3 linked regions of the Homo sapiens genome follow. The protein of the gene in region 2 purifies or fractionates together with the protein of the main gene of each other region. This does not show direct contact. Each region holds a gene or a part of one and is shown on either strand. Other genes may lie near its edges.

Evidence for each region.
Region 1: the proteins of HAUS2 (region 2) and TUBA4A purify together in Homo sapiens (affinity purification with mass spectrometry; 2 studies listed by BioGRID and IntAct, with this or other methods). This does not show direct contact.
Region 3: the proteins of HAUS2 (region 2) and HAUS5 purify together in Homo sapiens (affinity purification with mass spectrometry; 5 studies listed by BioGRID and IntAct, with this or other methods). This does not show direct contact.

Annotation. Positions count from the first base shown.
Region 1 is NC_000002.12:219,250,866-219,258,830, forward strand, and holds the start of TUBA4A (tubulin alpha-4A chain), read right to left. Parts: upstream 3,054-7,965; 5' UTR 2,994-3,053; coding exon 2,991-2,993; intron 2,555-2,990; coding exon of another isoform or gene 2,543-2,554; exon of another isoform or gene 2,378-2,542; intron 1,366-2,377; coding exon 1,143-1,365; intron 849-1,142; coding exon 700-848; intron 459-699; coding exon 1-458. Other genes in the region: TUBA4B (tubulin-like protein alpha-4B), read left to right, coding at 2,543-2,554. UniProt on the Homo sapiens protein: Tubulin is the major constituent of microtubules, a cylinder consisting of laterally associated linear protofilaments composed of alpha- and beta-tubulin heterodimers.
Region 2 is NC_000015.10:42,544,553-42,551,939, reverse strand, and holds the start of HAUS2 (HAUS augmin-like complex subunit 2), read right to left. Parts: upstream 3,103-7,387; 5' UTR 3,068-3,102; coding exon 2,975-3,067; intron 1-2,974. Other genes in the region: LRRC57 (leucine-rich repeat-containing protein 57), read left to right, coding at 3,506-3,589, 3,696-3,834, 4,411-4,679, 6,678-6,863.
Region 3 is NC_000019.10:35,608,514-35,615,751, reverse strand, and holds the start of HAUS5 (HAUS augmin-like complex subunit 5), read right to left. Parts: upstream 3,018-7,238; 5' UTR 2,958-3,017; coding exon 2,860-2,957; intron 2,023-2,859; coding exon 1,960-2,022; intron 1,885-1,959; coding exon 1,852-1,884; intron 1,718-1,851; coding exon 1,693-1,717; exon of another isoform or gene 1,618-1,692; intron 711-1,617; coding exon 605-710; intron 526-604; coding exon 366-525; intron 1-365.

The sequences.
Region 1 (7,965 bases), on a different chromosome or scaffold from region 2:
GCAGAGATGACTGGTGCATAGGTGGCCAGGGGGAAGTGGATGCGAGGGTAGGGCACCAGGTTGGTCTGGAACTCTGTCAGGTCCACATTGAGGGCCCCGTCAAAGCGCAGAGAAGCTGTGATGGAGGAGACAATTTGGCTAATGAGGCGATTGAGGTTGGTGTAGGTTGGGCGCTCGATGTCTAGGTTGCGGCGGCAGATGTCATAGATTGCTTCGTTGTCCACCATGAAGGCACAGTCTGAGTGCTCCAGGGTGGTGTGGGTGGTCAGGATAGAGTTGTAGGGCTCGACCACGGCTGTAGACACCTGGGGGGCTGGGTAGATGGAGAATTCCAGCTTGGATTTCTTGCCATAGTCAACAGAGAGCCGCTCCATCAGGAGTGAGGTGAAGCCAGAGCCAGTGCCCCCACCAAAGCTGTGGAACACCAGGAAGCCCTGAAGTCCTGTGCACTGGTCAGACTGAAAGGCAAGAACGAGAAAGAACAGTTTAGGTAGGGGAGGGGCCTGAGGGACTCTATCACCTGGCTCCATAAAGCGTAAGATACATCAGCAGTCAGGGCAAATACTGAGGATGCCATAGCAGCACCACACTCGAGACCATGTATAGTTAGAGATGACCTCCTGAAAGGATCTGAAAAAAAATATTCCTGACCATTAGCACAGTCTCAAAAGTTCCCTCCCTCCCAAGACACACTCTCACCAGCTTGCGGATCCGATCCAGCACTGGGTCAATGATCTCCTTGCCAATGGTATAGTGACCACGGGCATAGTTGTTGGCAGCATCCTCTTTCCCAGTGATGAGCTGCTCTGGGTGGAAGAGCTGTCGGTATGGGCCATTTCGGATCTCATCTGGAAGGGCAAAAACCACAAAGCTATGCTCAGCAGGGACCTTCCTCCCCCAGGGTGGTAGCTGTGGCCAGATGCATGGAAGGACTCATCCTCCTGCCAGCCTGAGATACCAGAGTGTGAGAGAAACCCAGACCAGCTGCCCAGGCCAGTCTCAGATCAGCTTGCCTTCTGCAGCTTCAAGTACGGCTAGGAATTTTCAGGGCTAGGAATGCCTGGTCTAAATACCCTCTCTCTCCAGGGAGAAGCTTTGAGTCATGCTCCACCCCCTTCAATTTTGTCCCCACTTCCTCTCACCAATGACCGTAGGCTCCAGATCCACAAAAACTGCCCGGGGTACGTGTTTTCCAGCACCAGTTTCACAGAAGAAGGTGGTGAAGGAGTCGTCCCCTCCACCAATGGTCTTGTCACTGGGCATCTGCCCATCAGGCTGAATCCCATGTTCCAAGCAATAGAGCTCCCAGCAGGCATTGCCCATCTGGACACCTGCCTGCCCCACGTGGACTGAGATGCATTCACGCTGAGGGATAGAGAGAGGGGACACAGCATGAGCCCCACATCCACAAGTCCTCACCTTGCGAGTCTCTCTTCCACCCTATCATCTACCAGCTAGGATGACTCAGTTGGCAAGAGTGGAGGGTTGGGGCTGGGCAGAGGTGAGAAGAGAGTAGCAGCCTGCCCGGGCTCCCAGGTACAGGACTCCCCACCTGGAGGCACCCAGCAATGCAGGCCAACCTCTTAGCCCACTTCTCAGTGGGGAATCTGTCAAGTGAGCACTGTGGCTCCACATGACAAAAGGTTTCCTAGAGGTATGGGTTTACAGCTAGAGGCCCCCCCCCCACTTGATTAATTATTTGCTTTGAGTATGAACAGCTAGAATTCATAGAACCCTTTCCCTCTTTCTTTCCTGTAAGCTGCAGAGGTGTCTCAGCCATCCAATCTGGCATCAACTGACCACACGCCATCAGGATGCCCTCCTCCCTCACCTTTAAATCCCATCTGGCTCTGGGGATCAATCCCATCTGGCTCCTCTCCCCACCTCCACCCCCGCACCCTGGGTGTCTTCACCACTTTCATCTCCCGTGTCAGCCCGCACGGAAATAGCGGCGGTAATGCTTGTAAGCTCAGACAGCAGGGGCCAGCAATAAGGTTTGAGGGTACTGGGGCGCTCACTGCCTTAGGCTCCGTCCCTGTCAGCCCGAAATTAACCCCTAAAGCACTAAAGTCCGGCAGGGCCCGCGCGCTCTTCCCACACCGAAATGGCGGGGTGACGGTTTCCAAATACCCAGAAAGGAAGTGGAACCTGCGGTGAGGCCCCAGAGGTGACCCGCCTTGTCCCGGGCAGGATGGGCGCCATCCTGCAGCCCAGCCCTACATCCGCTCTCCCTCTGGAGTCTTTACAGTTATTTCCCAGCCCAAAGCGGGGATTGGGTTTCGGCCCCCGCTCCTGGGCTATAAATACCACCCCCTACATGCACCTCTCTCCCCTCCCCCCAACCTGGCCTCGGCCCGCGCAGTGCTCAGCGCCAGCTGTCTCTGCCCATCCGCGCACCCGGGCTTCGGCTGGAGAGGGCCAGCTCGCTTCAGGAGGCCGAACCCCGTTCCCACCAACCCTCTCAGCTCAGACGCGGGGTGCTGAGTCACGGGGGGGGGGTGGTTCTGTGGATAGTTGGAATGCATACACAGAGGAAAGGGGGATGCGGCACCAGGTAACCTGACCCCTTCCACCTTCTAGCGCCAAGCACGTGCTCGGTCAGTGCTGAGGACCAGGGACTGGGGATGTAAGAGGGCAGCCAAACCCGTCTTCTTTTGCCCGCGGAAAGGACGGGGCGCGGGCCCGCGTGACTCTCATACAGAGTCGGGACACAAATGCTCGTAAGGCAGGAGCAGAGTGCCAGGAAGGGTTCCTCTCTGTTACTGAAGAGTCGCACTCCACCCCAAGCCCCAACCCCAGCCACCGAAGGTGAACTATACGGCTCGGCCAAAGTCACCAGGAGGGGGTTGGGGAGGGAGGATGCAAAACCCTCGCACCTCCTGGAGACCCGGAACGCCCGGTGGAGGTCCCCGAGCATGCCTGGAAGAAGTGTCCCCCAAAGGAGAGGGGCAATTAGGGGACAGGCGCGACCCCGGCCGGGCCGCACTCACCATGGTGAGTCCGGGCGGTGCGTCTCACGTTGAGTCGGGGTGACAGGTCTCAGTGAGAACTGCGCTAGCTGCAGTGCCGCACCGCCCTTATAGGCGGGGGGGGGGCGGGGCCCGCGTTCCCCGCTCGCCCACTAGAGGCTGGGCGGCCCGCAGGCCACGCCTCCCGGGAGGGTAAGCGGCCCCCCCGAGGGGCGGAGCCTGGCCTGGTACCCTCCCCAAGCTGCGCGGGGGTCCCTCACCTGTCCCGCTGGGATTAAGAGTCGCGATTCGGGCTTTAACCATTCTTTCCTCGTTTTGAGCAGACACGCTGGGCTCCCGAGGGCCTCCGCGGAGATGCAGGGTGCTGTGGCAGGGCGAGTCTCACCTGCACCTGCGTCCTGGAGGCACCGGTCATCCAGGTGTTCTGACTTAGGTCGGGAGCAGGCGAGGCGGTCCTTCCCAAGCGGCCACAGCTGGCCTTCACCCCTGCCCTTCCAGCCCTGCCTCCCAGGAGACTCGGGCCGGCTGTGAGGCTGTGGCGCGTCCCCGGGGAGCCCTTGCCAGCTGCCTGACGCTTCCTGGTCCCCGGCCGGGGCGGCAGCCTTTCGCCGACGCCTGTGGGCGGCCGAGGACCCAGAACTGCACAGCCTGAGCCCCAGATTGCCAATGCCTTAGGCGCTCCCGCAGAGTCGAGCCCCGCAGCCTGTCTGCCGGGGCCGACCCCGGAATCTGCCGCGGCTCGCCGGCCGCCCGCGGGTCAGTGGCGCTGTCATCAGCGCAGTCACTATGATGCCCTCGCTGAGGGCACCTGCCCACTCCCCTGCTGCCAGAACTGCGGGAGCGCTGACCGGGGGACCTCAGGACCTGGATTCTCCTCCAGGCTACCCTGTGTGACCTTGAGCAAGTGACTTAACCTCACTGAGTCCTTGACATTTTCGTGGGTGAAAAGGAGACAGTGATGTCATAGTGGAAACATTGTTGTAAGCTATCAAAATGTCTGTTGCCTCTGAAGAGAAAAGAAGAAAATCGAGATTCTCATATCTTGGATGATTCTGACTCTTGGTCTCTTCTGTCTCTAACCCAAGAGCAGGATCTGCAACCCGCACCTTAATGGTCTCAGCACTCAGCCCCTGGTCTCCGCAGAAGCCCTTCTTTCTACATTTCATTCCGTTCTCTCCACCCCATCTTTTCAAGCTACTTCTGCTTTCTCTTTCTCTCTCTCTCTCTCTCTTTTGAGTCAGTGTCTTGCTGTGTCACCCAGGCTAGAGTGCAGTGGTGCAATCTCAGCTCATTGCAACCTCCATCTCCCGGCTCAAGGCCATCCTTCTACCTCATCCTTCCACCTCAGCCTCCTCAGTAGCTGAGACCACAGGCGTGCACCAACACCATGCCCAGCTTATTTTATTTATTTATCTATTTTTGAGATGGAGTTTCGCTCTTGTTGCCCAGGCTGGAGTGCAATGGCACGATTTCGGCTCACCTCAACACCTGCCTCGCGGGTTCTAGCGATTCTCCTGCCTCAGCCTCTGGAGTAGCTGGGATTACAGGCATGGATGCCTGGATGATTTTTGTATTTTTAGTAGAGACGGGGTTTCACCATGTTGGTCAGGCTGGTCTCCAACTCCTGACCTTAGATGATCCACCTGCTTCAGCCTCCCAAAGTGCTGGGATTACAGGTGTGAGCCCCCACACCCGGCCTTATTTTTTGTATTTTTAGTAGAGACAAGGTCTCGCCATATTGTCCAGATTTGTCTTGAACTCCTGAGCTCAAGCGATCCACCCGCCTCAACCTCCCAAAGTGCTGGGATTACAGGCCTGAGCAACCACCCCAGCCTGCCTTGCATTTTCTAATTGTCTCCCTTCACTGGGGAAAGTCATCTGGCAGTGCCCCAGGTGCTGCTGGTTTGCAGATCTTAAGAAACCTGTCTTCCTGGCTCTACATCACTTGGAAAGGATTCACCCCTCCCTCCCCCATCACCTGACAACACAACATAATACCATGAAAGAACTAGTGATGGCAACTCTCTATCAACAAAATAGGCAAGGCATGGAAAGGAATATAGTGAAATATGACAAGGTCTTTCTTCCCAGTAGACTTGCCATCTGATTGGGAGAACAAGACTCATTCATAAAAAGAAAACTGACAGGGGCGTATAATGAGGCTTCTTTGGGGAATAAGGTCATGGTCCCTACAAAGAAAGGAGCCGTGGTGACTATAGGACACATGGCAGTAGGTTGCAGACCCTCCCTGAACCTCTTTTTCCTTGTGCTCTCCTATCCTAGCAGAATGAACATAGTAAGAGACTTGAGCTATCTTAGGAAAAACTCTAAACCTCTTTGACCTTCAGGTGCAGATTCTTCATTTGTAAAACCGGGATAACAACTTCAGATTGTGAATATCAGATGAATTTAGAGATGTACATATTCACATCAAGGCACTGTGTAAGTAGCTGTGACATTTATTTTAGTGCATATAGCACATCATGCTATAGTTATTTGTGTACATGTCCATCTTAATATTATAGATAGCAAACTATTGGAGGTAAGGACTGTGTCTTATTCATCTTTGTTTCTAGCTCCTAGCATAGTGCTTAGCACACCTGGTAAGCATTTGCTAAGTGTGTGTCAGAAGAATTGTTTCACTTCAGAGATGGTAGGCAGAAGAATGCTACCCCATAAAGATGTCCACATCCTCATCTCCAGGACCTGTGACTGTTACCTTACATGGCAAAATACTTTGAAGATGTTATTAAGGTAAAGATCTTGAGATAGGGAGATGATCCTGGATTATCCCAGGTAGGCCCAGTGTAATTTCAAGGGTCCTTATAAGTGAAAGAAGGAGGCAGGAGGGTCAGAGTCAAAGAAGAGGTCAGACCTGGTGCAGTGCTCATGCCAGTAATCCCAACACTTTAGGAGGCTGAGGTGGGAGGATCACTTGAGGTCGGCAGTTTGAGACCAGCTTGGGCAACATAGTGAGACCCTGTCTCTACCAAAAAATAAAAATTATAAAATAAAGAAGAGGTCAAAAGTAAGTAGAGGTCAGAATGATGTGATTGTTGGCTTTGAAGAGGGATAGGGGCCATGAGTAAAAGAATATGGGCAGCCTCTAGAAGATGGAAAAGTCGAGGAATAGATTCTCCCCTAGAATTTCCAGAAGGAAGGCAACCTGGCCAACACCTTCATTTCAGTTCTGTAAGACCCATTTTGGCTTTTTTTTTTTTTTTTTTTTAAGATGGAGTCTCACTGTTGCCCAGGCTGGAGTACAGTGGCGCGATCTCGGCTCACTGCAAGCTCCACCTCCCGGGTTCAAGCAATTCTCCTGCCTCAGCCTCCCGAGTAGCTGGGACTACAGGCATGTCCCACCACTCCTGGCTAATTTTGTATTTTTAGTAGAGATGGGGTTTCACAGTGTTAGCCAGGATGGTCTCGATCTCCTGACCTCGTGATCCACCCACCTCAGCCTCCCAAAATGCTGGGACTACAGGTGTGAGCCACTGCGCCCAGCCTTTTTTTTTTTTTTTTTTTTTGAGGCAGGATCTTGGCCGGGCATGTAATTCCAGCACTTTGGGAGGCCGAGGCAGGTGGATCACGAGGTCAGAAGTTCAAGACCAGCCTGACCAACATAGTGAAACCCCGTCTCTACCAAAAATACAAAAAATTAGCCAGGTATGGTGGTGTGCACCTGTAATCCCAGCTACTCAGGAGGCTGAGGCAGGAGAATCGTGTGAACCTGGGAGGCAGATGTTGCAGTGAGCCAAGATTGCACCATTGCACTCCAGCCTGGGCAATAGTGAGAGACACTGTCTCAAAAAAAAAAAAAAAAAAAAAAAAAGAGACAGGAAGACAGGATCTTGCTCTCTTGCCCAGGCTGGATTGCAGTGCTGAGGCAGGAGAATCGCTTGAACCAGGGAGGCAGAAGTTGTGGTGAGCCAAGATTGTGCCATTGCACTCCAGCCTGGGCAACAAGAGCGAAACTGTCTCAAAAAAAAAATATATATATACACACACTATATATATATATTTTATAGATATGGGGTCTTGCTGTGTTGCCCAAGCTGGTCTAGAGCTCCTAGCCATAAGCTCTTCTCCTGCCTTGGCCTCCCAAACTGCTGAGATTACAGGCATGAGTCACCTGGCCCATTTTGGGTGTTTTTTTTTTTTTTTTTTTTTTTGAGACAGTCTCTCTGTGTCACCCAGGCTGGAGTGCAGTAGTGTGATCTCAGCTCACAGTGCAATGCAACCTCCACCTACCAGGTTCAAGCGATTCTGCTGCCTCAAAGTCCCGAGTAGCTGGGATTACAGGTGCACAGCATGCCTGGCTAATTTTTGTAGTTTTAGTAGAGATAGGATTTCACCATGTTGGACAGGCTGGTCTCGAACTCCTGACCTCAGGTAATCCACCTGCCTTGGCCTCTCAAAGTGCTAGGATTACAGGCATGTGCCACCATACCTGGCCTCATTTTGTTTGTTTTGTTTTGTTTTGTGTTTGTTTTTGTTTTTGTTTGACACAAGGTCTGGCTCTATCACCCAGGCTGGAGTGCAGTGACGCAATCTTGGCTCGCTGCAACCTCCACCTCCCGGCCTCTAGCCATCCTTCCACCACAGTCTCCTGAGTAGTTGGGACTACAGGTGTGCACCACCACGCCTGGCTAGTTTTTTTTTTTTTTGTATTATTAGTAGAGATGGGGTTTCACCATGTTGCCCAGGCTGGTCTTGAACTCGTGAGCTCAAGTGATCTGCCTGCCTCAGCCTCCCTGAGTGCTGGGATTACAGGCATGATTCACCATGCCCAGCCCACCTGGCTCATTTTGGACTTCTGAACTCCAGCCCTGGCAGATAACAAATGTGTGTTGTTTTAAGCTATGATTTTTATTACAATTTGTTACAGTAACAGTAGGAAAATAATACGACAACAATAGAGGTATGTGGAAGCTACCATCTTAAGATGGGCAACAAGCTCCCTCCAGTTCGCCACAGTCCTCATCACTCTCTGTGT
Region 2 (7,387 bases):
ATTGGGACTAGCTGTGTAGTAAGGTTGTCAGAAGTCTTAAGGAGCTATGGAGTGGGATCTTAAGGAGCTATGGAGTGGGACATGTTAACTGTAGGTAAAACCAGTAACTGTCTAATTAATGTTACTTGAGAGACAGTAGACACCCCCAAGACAACCACCACCCCCAAAAAAGAGTTCACCCATCAATGCCTGAAATTCTGTCACCAGTGCCTTACTCCTTTGGTTTAGGCATTTGTATTTCCTACCAATGCTCTTTAGAGGGATACCAAGTACCAAAAGTTGGGGGGTTGTTTTTTTTTGAGACAGGGTCTTACTGTGTCACCCAGGCTGGAGTGCAGTGGCACGATCTTTGCTCACTGCAATCTCCACCTCCAGGGCTCAAGCGATTCTCATGTCTCGGCTTCCCGAGTAGCTGGGATTACAGGCACCTACCACTATACCCGGCTGATTTTTGTATTTGTAGTAGAGACTGGGTTTCACCATGTTGGCCCAGCTGATCTCAAACTCCTGACCTCAGGTGATCCACCCGCCTCGGCCTCCCAAAGTGTTGGGATTACAGGAGTGAACCCTCAAAAATGTTTTCTATTATGAGTTTGCCAAACTATTTTGTGACAGGAGAACTGGACAATACAAGTGAGAGTACTAGGTAACCTGATAAGAAGAAAAAGGCTGGGTTCAGCTCCCAGTACTTTGGGAGGCCGAGACAGGCAGATCACCTGAGATCAGGAGTTTGAGACTACCCTGGCCAAAATGGTGAAACCCCGTCTCTACTGAAAATATGAAAATTAGCAGGTGTGATGGCAGGTGCCTGTAGTCCCAGCTACTCGGGAGCACGAGAATTGATTGAACCCAGGTGGCAGAGGGTACAGTGAGCCAAGATCACACCACTGCACTCCAGCCTGGGCAACAGAGGGAGACTATGTCTCAGAAAAAAAAAAAAAAGAAAAGAAAAGAAAAAGAAAATACAGGAGAGGGCCGGGTGCAGTGGCTCACGCCTGTAATCCCAGCACTTTGGGAGGCAGAGGCAGGCAGATCACGAGGTCAGGAGATCGAGACCATCCTGGCTAACATGGTGAAACCCCATTTCTACTAAAAATACAAAAATTAGCCGGGTGAGGTGGTGAGCACCTGTAGTCCCAGCTACTCATGAGGCTGAGGCAGGAGAATGGCATGAACCCAGGAGGTGGAGCTTGCAGTGAGCCAAGACTGTGCCACTGCACTCCAGCCTGGGCAACAGAGCGAGACTCCGTCTCAAAAAAAAAAGAAAACACAGGAGAGAAGGGAGGAAGGATTACACTGTAGAGTGCTGTGGTCACTCCTGGTAAAGTTAGTCAACTAGGACCACCTGAATCTCCCCATCACCCAGACAATGGGTGTTCAACAAAAGCTTAAAATCTTTTAATACAGTATCACAGCCTCTTATAACAGTTCATCTTGAGAGGGGATACAATGTGTCAAAAGGGAGAGTACTAAGATCTAATTCTCCTTTAACAGTCTAGTGACCATGGGCAAGTTTCTTGGTCTAAGCCTTAGTTTCTTAAATTAAAAAATACTGTAAGGTATTAGAGTCTCTAATGGCTCTTCTGACTATAAAAAGTTATGTATTTTCCGTAAATCTTCCATCATGTTTGTAGTGCTTTTTTTTTTTTTTTTTTCCCTGAGACAGGGTCTCACTCTGTCGCCCAGGCTAAGTGCAGTGGCCCGATCGCATCTCACTGCAACCTCCATCTCTTAAGCTCAAGCCATCTTCCCATCTGAGCCTCCAGGACCCATGTGGTCCGCGGAGTAGTTGGGACTACAGGTGTACGCCACCATGCCGGCTAATATGTGCTGATTTTTACAGATCAGTTTAACTTTTCTGTTTTCTTTTTAGTGAAATTTCTCAACTTCCTCTATATATCAAAATTTATTTCCCCATTTTTCTCAATGCCCTTGATCCCACTTGCCCCATGCCCTCCTGTCACTGCATTCCATTATTTCCTCACATGTTCAATTTCTCCCTCTGTTGGCTCCTTCCTCCGACATGCTCCTCTTGCCCAACCTAAAACTGCCACTCCGTGACTCCTTGGGTTAATGTCTCTTTTCTCTCCTTCTCAAAATTAATCTCTTCCTCCATTCACGTTCCAAGGTCTTATCTTTTTAGCCAATACTTTTTTTTTTTTTTTTTTTTTTTTGCCTTTAAAGATGCCAAGGCCGGGCGCGGTGGCTCACGCCTGTAATCCCAGCACTTTGGGAGGCCGAGGCGGGTGGATCACGAGGTCAGGAGATCGGGACCATCCTGGCTTACAAGGTGAAACCCCGTCTCTACTAAACATACAAAAAAAAATTAGCTGGGTGTGGTGGTGGGCGCCTGTAGTCCCAGCTACTCCAGAGGCTGAGGCAGGAGAATCGCTTGAACCAGGAAGGCGGAGGTTGCAGTGAGCCGAGACCACGCCACTGCACTCCAGCCTGGGCGTTAGAGCGAGACTCTGTCTCATATAAATAAATAAATAAATAATAAAATAAAATAAAAATGTCAAAAAAGAGCTTCTGGCGCTCTTCTCTACCCAGCACCTCCCGCCCCAAATACGATTCAACACTTCCCACAAACGAGGGTTGTTGGAAATGCTTGTTCCGCAAGGGGACAGAACGACCCGTATTTCCCATCCCCGCCCTTACACTACAGTCTAGAGGCAGTATCACTGGATGAAAAAAAGGCTGGTAACAGTCTAATCTCCCACAAACTGGACTGGGACAAATTTACCCTACAGACACTCAAAACACAGTCTACCCTAAACACCATCTACTCAGATCCCCGCTTTCCAAGCATCCACGGCAGAACGTTCGCGGCTGTTGCCTGGAAGGGGCTCTTATTACTCTAGTACAGACCCCAACCAGGACCCTCACCACTCCCACAGCCAGCAGCACCAACTCACAGCCATATTGTTGCCACCTTGGGCACCCCCTTGATGACACCACCGCCACCCCCACGTACCTGATTGACCATCCCCGAAGCTATGAAGTGGCCTAGCACTAGCCCAGCGCCGTTAGGCGCGGACGCCGGGTCCCACGGGTTGGCAGCGGCCATGGCTCGGACGCACCTTCCGCGAAGGCGCCAAGAGTGAGCGGGATCGCAGGGCGAACGCACGGCGCGGCTCGATGACGTCACAGGGCGTTCCCGCCCGGGACTAAGCCGGGGAGCGCATCCCGGCTACTGCGGGTCCTGGGTCTTCACCTGCGGAGCCTTACGGCAGCTGAGCGGTGGGAGGCGAGTCCGGGGCTCCCTGATCTTCCGTAGGCTCCCAGAGGCGCCTGGCCTCCGCAGAGCTGCAAAGGCGGCAGGGCTTGGTGGTCGGGCTGTGTGTTCTTCCGTTTCTTCCTTGTCGCTCTTGGGTCGGGCCCCAGGAGCCAGGGATCGGCGGGAGTTGAGAGCTGGGGCAGGAGCCCCAGCCGGGAGGCCGACCGGGTGGACTGGGCGGTGACAGCAGCGCTTCCTTCCCGCAGGGACCTGAGCCGCGGCGCTAGGATGGGAAACAGTGCGCTCCGCGCTCATGTGGAAACGGCGCAGAAAACTGGTGTCTTTCAGCTTAAGGACCGAGGGCTGACCGAGGTGAGACTGGGAGGGACACGACCAGGGAACTTAAAGGGAGAGGGACGGCGGGGGCGGCGAACTTAGTCGGTGCGGGATTCCCCACGCTGTGAACTCCTTTCTCCAGTTCCCCGCAGACTTGCAGAAGCTGACGAGCAATCTCAGGACCATCGACTTGTCCAACAACAAGATCGAAAGCCTACCGCCTTTGCTGATAGGAAAGTTCACTCTGCTGAAGAGCCTCTCCCTGAACAACAACAAACTGAGTATGGCTCTCGCCAGGGAGGCTTTTGCTAGTGATCAGCTGTTACCAGGGGTGGTTTTCTCTTACAAGCTGATTTTTGTTTTTGTTATGAAACCGTGCAGGAGGGCTCAAGTTGCGAATGCCGGAATCCTTGAAGCCTTCTTTCTACTTCTTGTAATTACATCTAAAATAAGCCTTATAATGATTGGGTGTTATAATGATTGTTACTGGGTTAATTTGGACTTGAAAGAGAAGAACATTTTGGGGATGTAATGTAAACAAAGCTACCTAACTTGGAATGGGGGATGGATGAGAAGGGGAGGATCTTCCAAATATCACAAAATTGCTGTCGGATTGTGCCTTGGGCCCCTTTACAAAAGGAGCCCATTATACACACAAATGCTCTCCGGCATTTTGATGGCACCCTCACCTTCTAAAGACTATGTTGGTAAAATGCAATATCTAAAAATGGCACATGTGGGAGTTTTACATATATTAACAAGAGGCGAAGCAGGCTGCCATATAGTCTTTATAAACTTCATCAAAGTTGTTTTCAGCTCTATCACATTCAGGTTTTAAAAAAATTTTTCTTTGCCAGCTGTTCTGCCTGATGAGATATGCAATCTGAAAAAACTAGAGACGCTAAGCCTAAACAACAATCACCTTAGAGAGCTGCCGTCTACCTTTGGGCAACTCTCTGCCCTCAAGACCCTGAGCCTCTCTGGGAACCAACTGGGAGCATTACCTCCCCAACTTTGTAGCCTACGGCACCTGGATGTGATGGATCTCTCTAAGAACCAGATTCGAAGTATACCTGACTCAGTGGGAGAGCTGCAAGTCATCGAACTCAACCTCAACCAGAATCAGGTCTAGAGCTTTAAGGTTTTTTTTCCTACAGCATATGTGTGGCTTTAAGGTCTCCTGATACCTGTTAACCTCTTGTTTCCTAAACTGCCATCATAGAGCTAAGTATCAGAGGCTAAATGAGAGGTTTCTTCTATAGGCTGAACTAATTTCAAGGCCCAAAGTGCCATGGAATTAGTTGAGACACTGGATGTGTTAGTTGTGTAGGTGTTTTGGGGAGGGTGGGGTAGGTAACAGGGAGAGATCATTTCAAAAGTTAAACTACTGTCTCACAAATCTTGAAGACTTCTTCAGATCCTCCTCAAATATATGCCCCTAACCAGCTAGCCAGGAGCTATGTCAGGGATATAATGTGGAAATGAGGCCTAAACTGAGGTTCTCAGAGTCGGGAGTCAGAGGTAATTCAGTTTTGTTTTTCGTTTTGTGTGGGGTTTTGACATCTTTGTTACAAAGTGTGTCTCCTTTTGCTGAAGAATATTAAGTGATAGGCTTTCTGGAGATAGCCCATTTCACTGTTGTACAGCTTTAATTATAATATTTGAAATTTGTTTCCATTACTTTGGAAGCTTTCAATTAATATTTGTCTGGAAAACCAATCCAAAGATTCTTGTCTAGGCATGAAGGCACAAGTGATGAAATATTAAACACTGTGAGACTGGATGGCCTTTAGTTTTCTAGTGTCTGTATTTCTAGATCTGCATGGTCCATTAAAGTGGCCAGAAGCTGCATGTGGTTATTACTTTTCTAGATTGTAGTGATTTTACATCATGATGAAATTCAGTCTGTCTTTGAGGAATTGGCCTCATGTTTTTTTACCTTAAGTGGATATTCTTGTATGTTATAGAGCTTCTTGGGGGAAAAAAAAAACTGAATCAATTAAGCAGCAAGTATTAGTTGAGGATTTGCTCCACATTCACCTCTGCCAGTACCTTTATTCAGTGGTTCTCTAAGTTTAGTATGCATCAGAATTAACCAGAAAAGCTTGTTTAAAGAGATCACTAGCCCCCTACCCTCAGTGTTTCTGATCCAGTAGGGCTGGGATGAGGTCTGAGAACTTGCATTGCTAGTTATTGAACTTATTAAAGTTCCCATGATTTCTAATAAGTGATGGTCTGAGATGATACTGGGCAGAATCAAATAATTTGGTGACTTTTAGTATTTAAATGGCAAAAGGGGTGAGTCAAAGACAATTGCTTGGTATTGAGCTTGAGGGCCTAAAGGAACAGTAGTGCTATTGAGAATGGACATGCTGAGTTGTCTGTGGTGAATCTTGTAAATGGAAATATCTTACTGAAAGTTGGAAACGTGGGAGCAGAATAGAGGTAAGAGTATAGATACAGATCTTGAGGTCATAACAAAAGTGATGGACTTTAATGAATGAGCTTTCTAGAAGAAGTTTAGAGAGAAGATGACATATGAAGTATTACAGACAGCTACTTGAAAAATGCCCATAAAAACAAGAGAAGTAAGGAAGAATCCAAAAGATAGGAAGAAAAACCAAAAAAGGACAAAAATAAGGGGTTTTAAGGAAGGGATAGATAGTACAGTTAAATGCAGTAGGGACTGAGGACAATGGATCCTTGAATTTGGTAGTAAAGTGGTCAGTATCTATGTACACATAAAACATTGGCAGTAAATGTACCAAAATGTTTATGGTGGTTATTTCTGGGTGGTGGATTCCAGGTAAACTTTTTTCTTTAAACCTGTGATTCTCAAATTTTCTATAATGAACATACAGTGCTTTTATCATCAGAAAATTTTGTTCCCAAAAAGCCATGGGTGACCTTCATAAAAGCATTTTTTTTAAGTGGGGGCGTAGTAACAGAAGCTAGATAACAGAGGCTTCTGGAGTGAGTAGGCAGTGAGAAAATGGAGGTGGTAAAAGAGGGGAAAACTAGAACAAATAGTCAAGTAAAGATTTTTGTTTTGTTTTAATGTACTAAAAGTAACCAGTATAGTGCTTATGCTTTTTCCTGTTATTCTTTTGTGGTTTTTCAATAGATATCTCAGATCTCAGTGAAGATATCTTGCTGTCCACGCCTTAAAATTCTTCGCCTGGAAGAGAATTGTCTTGAGCTCAGCATGCTTCCCCAGAGCATCCTCAGTGATTCCCAGATCTGTCTGCTTGCTGTGGAAGGCAATCTTTTTGAAATAAAGAAACTTCGAGAACTGGAAGGCTATGATAAGGTATGAATTAATGTACTTCTGCATTTCTAGTCACTACCCCAGAGAAGACAATGGTGAAGTAATCCACAGAAATGTTTATAGCTCATGTCAACAGGATTTGTTCTTCCCCATTTTGGAAGTAGATTCAAAGCATTGGCTGAATGGTATTGTACCAAGATGACTTTTTCTCTATAGACAGCTTATTGTAAAGCATCTTTGTCTTCATCTTTGTCTTTTGATATATATATATATATAGTGTGTGTGTGTGTGTGTGTGTGTGTGAGACAGGGTCTCACTCTGTCGCCCAGGCTGGAGTGCAGTGGCGCAATCTCAGCTCACTGGCGCAGCCTTCACCTCCTGGGCTCAAGCGATTCTCATCCCTCAGCCCCCCTAGTAGCTGGGATCACAGTCGTGTGCCAGTATGCCTTGCTAACTTTTGCAGGGATGGGGTTTTGCCTTGTTCGCCAAGCTGGTCTCAAACTCCTGGGCTGAAGTGATCTGCCCGCCGCAGCCTCCCAAGGTGCTGGGATTACAGGTGTAAGCCA
Region 3 (7,238 bases), on a different chromosome or scaffold from region 2:
TCCCTCTCCCTTCTATGATAGGCTTTTCTTCACAGCACTCATCTCTACCAGAAATGATAGGGTCTGTTTGGTTCCTACTTTACTATCTGTCTTCTCTGTGTCACAGCATAAGCTCCAGGAGGGCAGGGACATGTTCTCTGTTTGTGGCTGTTTCCCCAGGGCTGGTGTTCTAGGTATACAGGTGGTATCATTCTAGGCACTGAAAATACAGGTGACTGAGATGACAAAACCTCCTGGCCTCATGGACATTCCATCCTAATGGTTCCAGAATTCTGGAACCCAAGAAGGGATCAGGGCAGAGCCCTGAGGTCTCTAAGAGAATGTCTGGCCACCCAGCCTGGTGAGGGTGGGTCCCTGAGGCCCACCTCTCCATGTCCTGCAGGCGCCTCAGTTGATTCTGCAGCCGCTGCATGGGATCTCGGAGCGTATGCTGCTGTCTTCGCATGGCCCCAGCTTGGGCCCGGAGGAGGAGAGCTCGACGCTGGGTGTCTTGAGTGTGCTGACGTGCCTGCTCCATGGCCGTGTCTGTGGGAGGAACAGGGGTGGCCATCAGCACCTTTCCCGCCCCACATTCTGGTGCCCATCTTCTGGCCCCATGGCTCACCCTGAGCCTCAGTGTCTCGCTCCATCAGCTCCAGGCTCTGGTCGAGTTCCTGGATTTCTGCCCGCAGGCGGGTCACAGCAGCTTCCAGCTCTAACTTCCGACGGACCTGGGAGGATCAGATTCAGGGTCAGATGGTCTGATCGGGGCTCAGCCTGGCCTGTCTTTTGGGGGTACCAGGCTCCTCAACTGGTGGCAGAGGGTTTTTGCTCAGCAGTTTCTGTGTCTGACACAGAAGCATTAGGGTATTGGCTCCCTCCCTCCTTCCTCCTAGGATTGTCTTACCCACACTTCCAGCCTGTTTCCTGTCTGTGCTGGTGACAACCACATCTTTGTCCCAGTACTGATCTCTTCCCGGAGCCCTGCACCTAGAAGTCCCAAGGCCTCCTGGAAGCCTCCCCTTAGGTGTCATATGAGCCCCTTGCACCCATTGGGTCCCACACTGGCCTCAGCATCTCTCCCATACCTGTCCCATCATCTCTTCTCACCAGCTTTGATGCCACATATCCAGGTCCCACCTCTCTGCGCCCAGCTAATTAATGCTCTTTATTTATTTTTTCTTTTTTTGAGATAGAGTCTCGCTCTATTGCCCAGGCTGGAGTGCAGTAGTGCGATCTCAGCTCACTGCAACCTCTGCCTCCCAGGTTCAAGCGATTCTCCTGCCTCAGCCTCCCAAGTAGCTAGGATTACAGGCGTGTGCCACCACGCCTGGCTAATTTTTTATTTTTATTAGAGACAGGGCTTCACCGTGTTGGCCAGGCTGGTCTCGAACTCCTGACCTCAGGTGATCCGCCTCCCAAACCACATCTTTGTCCCAGTACTGATCGCTTCCTGGAGCCCTCAGGTGATCTCATCACCTGAGATGAGGCCTCAGGTGAGCCTCCCAAAGTGCTGGGATTACAGGTGTGAGCCACTGCACCTGGCTGAGCTAATGCTGTTTCCACTGGACTTTAAGCCCTATGAGGATGGAGATCAAGGCTGTCTTGTGACCCATTGTCCCCAGCATCACCCAGCACCTGGTTGGGCTTAGAGCAGAAGATCTACAAGTCATTTTTCGGATGAAAGAGAATCTTGTAGCATATGCTTCTCACCTGTGGACTGTCCTGGTGGCCATACCTAGGAAAACGAGGCCAGAGTCAGCGGATGAGTGGGGCTTCTAGGGGGGAGGGCAATAGGTGTGATGCTGTGGTGGGGACAGGGCTAAATGGGAGTGGGGAAGACAGGAGGGGATAGCTTTAAGAAGCAGTTACCAGAGTAGGTTTCCCCGGATCTTCTTGACAGTCCTACAGTGCAGAGGCAGAAAGAGGAGTTACTATGGGCCTCACCTGTGCCCCCTCCCCTGCTCTAGCCCAGCTTACCTCTGACTGTGCACATGCTGCAAGATGTAGGCCCAGATGTCAGCCCCCTGGCCCAGACACAGCCTGTGGGGACAGTGTGTAAGCATATGCCTGGGGCAGCACACAGGGTGTGGGATCCTCATTCCTAGGGTGATGGTGGTAGGGAGTTTTTACTAGGGAGTTCTCACTTCTTGAGGAGGGAAGGCCCAAACTTTTTTTTGCCTTTTTTTTTTTTTTTTTTTTAAGAGACAGTCTCGCTCTGTCGCAGTGGTACGATCATAGCTCCTTGCAGCCTCAACCTCCTGGGCTCATGCGATCCTCCCACCTCAGCCTCCAGAGTAGCTAGGACTACAGGCAGGCACCACTACACCCGGCTAATTGGTAAAACATTTTTTTTGTAGGGACTGGATGTTTGCACTAAGTGTGGTGTTATTCTCATTCCCTGGGAAGGCGGGTGGTGGGGGAGCGCGGGAGAGGCGGGTGCTCCCTTTCTCCTGGGAGTGGGTTATCCCAGTCACATCCAGAGGTGGAGGTGGGGGATGTACTGCCAGGAAGTGCCATCTCATGACCAGACGTGGGGCATCACTCCTACAGCTTCAATCCCCGATGGGGTGGCCACGGCTAACTCCTGAGTGTCCTTCTTGGTTAGGTTAAGGGAGGGAGGGGAGGTGCTGCGGGGACAGCCTCACTCTGGAGATCCTATTTCCATAAGGAGCGAGGTCTTAGCTAACTCGTGGAGGATCCTCACCAGTGCTAGGGACCTCACTCTGGGGAGCCTCCCAGGGTAGGGAGCCCTCAGTAAGTCGGGTCACTCTCGATGGGGAATTGGGGGGAGTCGAGTCCTCAATGAGGGGTGGAGTTCTCACTCCCGGAGACTCAATCTCCAGGGTGGGGTGTCCTCACTCCAGGAGCGGTCCTCACCTGCGCAGCGTCGATTCCGGGGCCCGGGCCGCCACGGGCACCCCCATCTCTTCGACCGCCCAGCAACCCAGTTCCCGCGCTTCCTGCGCTAGCTCCATGACAGCGCCGCGGCGGCGACACCGCCTCCCTCAGCCTCTTCAAGTGTGGCGCCCGCCTCTGACGTCACGGGCGCGCCAACAGTGACGTCATCGGTTGCCGGGCAGACAGCGGGCTCGGGCGCTGCATAGTAATCTTAGCGCGGTCAGGCTGGGTCTTGCAGCGCTCACTCTTCCCAGGTAGGTCTCCTTGAGTGGAAATGAAAAGGGCGTGGAGAGACTGCAGCCCCGCCCGCCTTCCCTCGTTCTCCCGCTCACTACCAGCTAACCCGAAAGAGGCAAAACAGTCCTTGATGCTTCCATTTATTTTCTTTTTCTTCTTTTAACTAAACACTTTTATTTTAATAGAGATGGGATCTCACTTGTTGCCCAGGCTAGTCTCAGCTTCTGGGCTCTTGAACTCCTGGGCTCAAGCGATCCTCCCGCCTCGGCCTCCCAAAATGTTGGGATTACAGGCGTGAGCCACCACGCTCACCCCCTTTATTTTCTTGACAAAATGGGACTTGCGTCCTAGGAGGACTGGAACCAGGCAATGAGATCCTGGACTTACTGCTCTTTGATTTCAGAAACAGGTGTCTCATGTCTGAGTGGAGGGTAGGGGCAGAGAGCATGACCCTAACATTTCCCTGGCATGCGTTTTCCCATTCATTCGTGCTTACCATTCCATAAACTCAGGGAGCTGACCCTGTGCTGGGTGATGCTGGGGACACCATGGTGACCACAACAGCCCTGGTCCCTATTGTACGGAGCTCACAGTTGAGTGGGGAGACAGACGCACCACCAGGTAGGGGTGGTAAAAATAAGCAGCAGGGGTGGGTCAATTTGGGACACAGCAGGTGTGAGAGGTCTGCGCTAGACCAGCAGTCCCCAACCTTTTGAGCATCAGGGACTGGTTTCATGGAAGACAATTTTTCCACAGTCTGGGGGATGGAGGGTGGGAGCAGTGGATGGTTTCGGGATGAAACTGTTCCACTTCAGGTCGTGAGGCATTATATTCTCTGTCTCTCTCTCTCTTTTTTTTTTTCTTCCCTGTTTTTTTTTTTGAGGTGAAGTCTCCCTCTTTCACCCAGGCTGGAGTGCAGTGGCCCGATCTCGGCTCAGCGCAATCTTTGCCTCCGGGGTTCAAGCGATTCTACTGCCTCAGCCTCCTGAGTAGCTGGGATTACAGGCGCCCGCTACCATGCCCAGCTAATTTTTGTATTTTTAGTAGAGACGGGGTTTCACCATGTTGGCCAGGCTGGTCTTGAACTCCTGACCTTAAGTGATCAGCCCATCTCAGCCTCCCAAAGTGCTAGCATTACAGGTGTGAGCCACCATGCCCCGCCTAAGCATTAGATTCTCATAAGGAGTGCGCAATCTAGATCCTTCGTATGCACAGTTCACAATAGGGTTTGCGCTCCTGTAAGAATCTAATGCCGCTCCTGATCTGGCAGGAGGTGGAGCTCAGGCAGTGATGCTCACCCATACGCCACTCACCTCCTGCTGTGCAGCCTGGTTTCTAACAGGCCATGGACTTGTATTGGTTCACGGCTTGGGGTTTGGAGACCCCTGCCCCTGCCCTAGATGAAATACTTCTCTGATGCTGACTAACCAACCATGCTTAAAAGCAAGGCCCGAAAGGATCAAGCTATTATTTAGCTGCATTCCAGAACAAAATTCAAGAATATTTATAGAGATTAAAAAAAATCCAGCATCCAACACTGTAAAATTAACAATATCTGACATCAGTAAAAAATTATAAGGCAATGGCTGGGCGTGGTGGCTCATGCCTGTAATCCCAGCACTTCGGGCGGTTGAGGTGGGAGGAATGTTTGAGGCTAGGAATTTGAGACCCACCTGGGCACCACAGCAAAACCTTGTCTCTATTAAAAATTAAAAAAAATTAGCCAGGCGTGGTGGTGCACGCTTGTAGTCCCATCTACTTGGGGGGTTGAAACAGGAGGATCAGTTGAGCCTGGGAGGTTGAGGCTTCAGTGAGCTATGATGGCACCACTGCACTCCAGCCTGGGTGACCCTGTCTCAAAGCCAAAACAAAACCAAACCAAAATAAAATAATCATCTGTATTCATGTTTCATAATATCCTCAATGGGTTTGTGCCTTTTTGGTACAGCTGTCAAGCAGCTCAAGAAAGTCGTGGGCTTTATCCGCTTAATGTAAGTGGCCGCTCTTGACTCTGGTTCCCAGGAAGACCTTCAACCTGGCCCCAGCCAAAAAGGCTACAAGCTGGCCCCCAAGAACTCACACAGCTTTTCCCAGTTCAGATGGCCCCAGGATAGCATGCCCACCAGCTTCCAGGAATCACTGTGGTTACTGTGCCCAGGTGCCTGAACCTCACAGTGCTGTGCATGGGGAGAAGCCTCTGCTGGGTGCTGACCTACCAGACAAGGATGGGCCAATTTAGGTAAATGGGAATGAGGAAGGAATGCCCGGCCCCAGAAAACCTCCCTCGAAGTTCAGATGACCATAGGAAACTCCCTGATAATGCAACTGCTGTGACTGTCACCTGCGTCTCAGTAGCTCACTGCAGGCACCTGGTCTCACTTCCTCCAGTCTGGCACAGCTTGTTACATCACCCAAGACAATGAAGGAAAAAGTGACCCCTTCAGAGGAAGGCCCTGAGCACTTAGGGTGCTTTCTGCCCCAGGGACCCAGGGTGAATCCCACGAAAGCCAGTTGTCTGGTTAGTGGTAACAGCACAGTGCAGGTGGACAGTCCCAATGTCCCATTGTTATGCTGGTGCTCAGCAGATGGTGAAGAACCTCCAGGCATGCCCCACAGCGGTCCCTGCTGCCTGCTTCCTGGCTGGGGTAGGACACACCCCTGTGACTTCCTTTCCTGCTATGTCTCTGCCCATCCTGCCCCAAACACACATGTAGATATGACCGGGTCTCAGACTGCAAAGTCAAGAGAGAGGAGGAAGTTCTCAGTAACATGCAAGGCGTGCCCTACCGCCATGATTTGGAAAGTTTCACCAGTCTCTGCTTTGAGAAGACTTGATCTGTCCCTGTGATTTGGTCACAATTGCCTTTGGACTGAGACACCACCAAAGGACAATGGATGGCCTGCACCCCCAGGAGCAGTCACCCGGGGTGCCTGTCTGGGCAAGTCTCATTCTCATTGCTACCTGGGCTTTCTCGTTTGTTTGTTTGTTTGTTTGTGAGATGGGACCTCACTCTGTTGCCCAGGCTGGAGCCATGGCCCGATCACGGCTCATCACATGCTGGAACTCCTGGGCTTAAGTGATCCTCCTGCCTCAGCCTCCTTAGTAGCTGGGACTTGAGCCAATTCTCCCAGCTAGATTTTTTTCAGTTTTAATTTTTTGTAGAGACGGGGTCTCGCTATGTGGCCCAGGCTGGTCTCAAACTCCTGGCCTCAAGCAGTCCTCTCACCTTGGCCTCCCAAAGCACTGAGATTACAGGCATGAGCCATTATACCTGGCCACTTTCTGCTTTTATTTATTTATTTTTTTTGTGACAGAGTCTCCCTCTGTCGCCCAGGCTGGAGTGCAGTGGCACAATCTCGGCTCACTGCAACCTCTACCTCTTGGGTTCAAGCAATTCTCTGCCTCAGCCTCCCAAGTAGCTAGGATTACAGGCATGCACCATCATACCCGGCTAATTTTTGTATTTTTAGTAGAGACGGGGTTTCACCATGTTGGCCAGGCTGGTCTCAAACTCCTGACCTCAAGTGATCCACTTGCCTCAGCCTCCCAAAGTGCTGGGATTACAGGTGTGAGCCACTGCACCTGGCCTCACTTTCTGCTTCTTATGCTCAATGTCTCCTTGTTTTGGAGACATGTCACCATTTGTCCTTTTCTTGGTTCCTTTCTCATGGTATCTGTTCTGTTGGCCTTGGTGGGAGGTACTGGTGCCTTCCTGCTTTCTTAGATCCTGAAGGAGCAGAGCCCCTGTGGCCTCTTGGTCTTCTTCTGTCAGCATCTCTCTCCCTTTGCTTTATCTGAAATCTCTTTTCTGTTTTTCTGGATAATTTCAGGATGCTTTTTGGAACCCATCCACCATCTGAGAGATAATAAGAAGCTTCTCTAGGACTTGTGATTTTGGTTTCAGCAGCTCCTTCCACGTTTGAGAAGAGTCTTCTCATTTCTTACTCATAGAACATCCCATCAGACATTTCTCCTGATCCACATAGTAATTCAGGGATCCAGGCTTCTTCCATAAGGTGATTCAACCATCTTCTATGGGCTCAGAGTCTTTTGAATCCAGGCAGAAGAGAGAATAAGGAACTCGCACCTGCTTCTTGAAAGTCTTCACCCTAAAGTGACA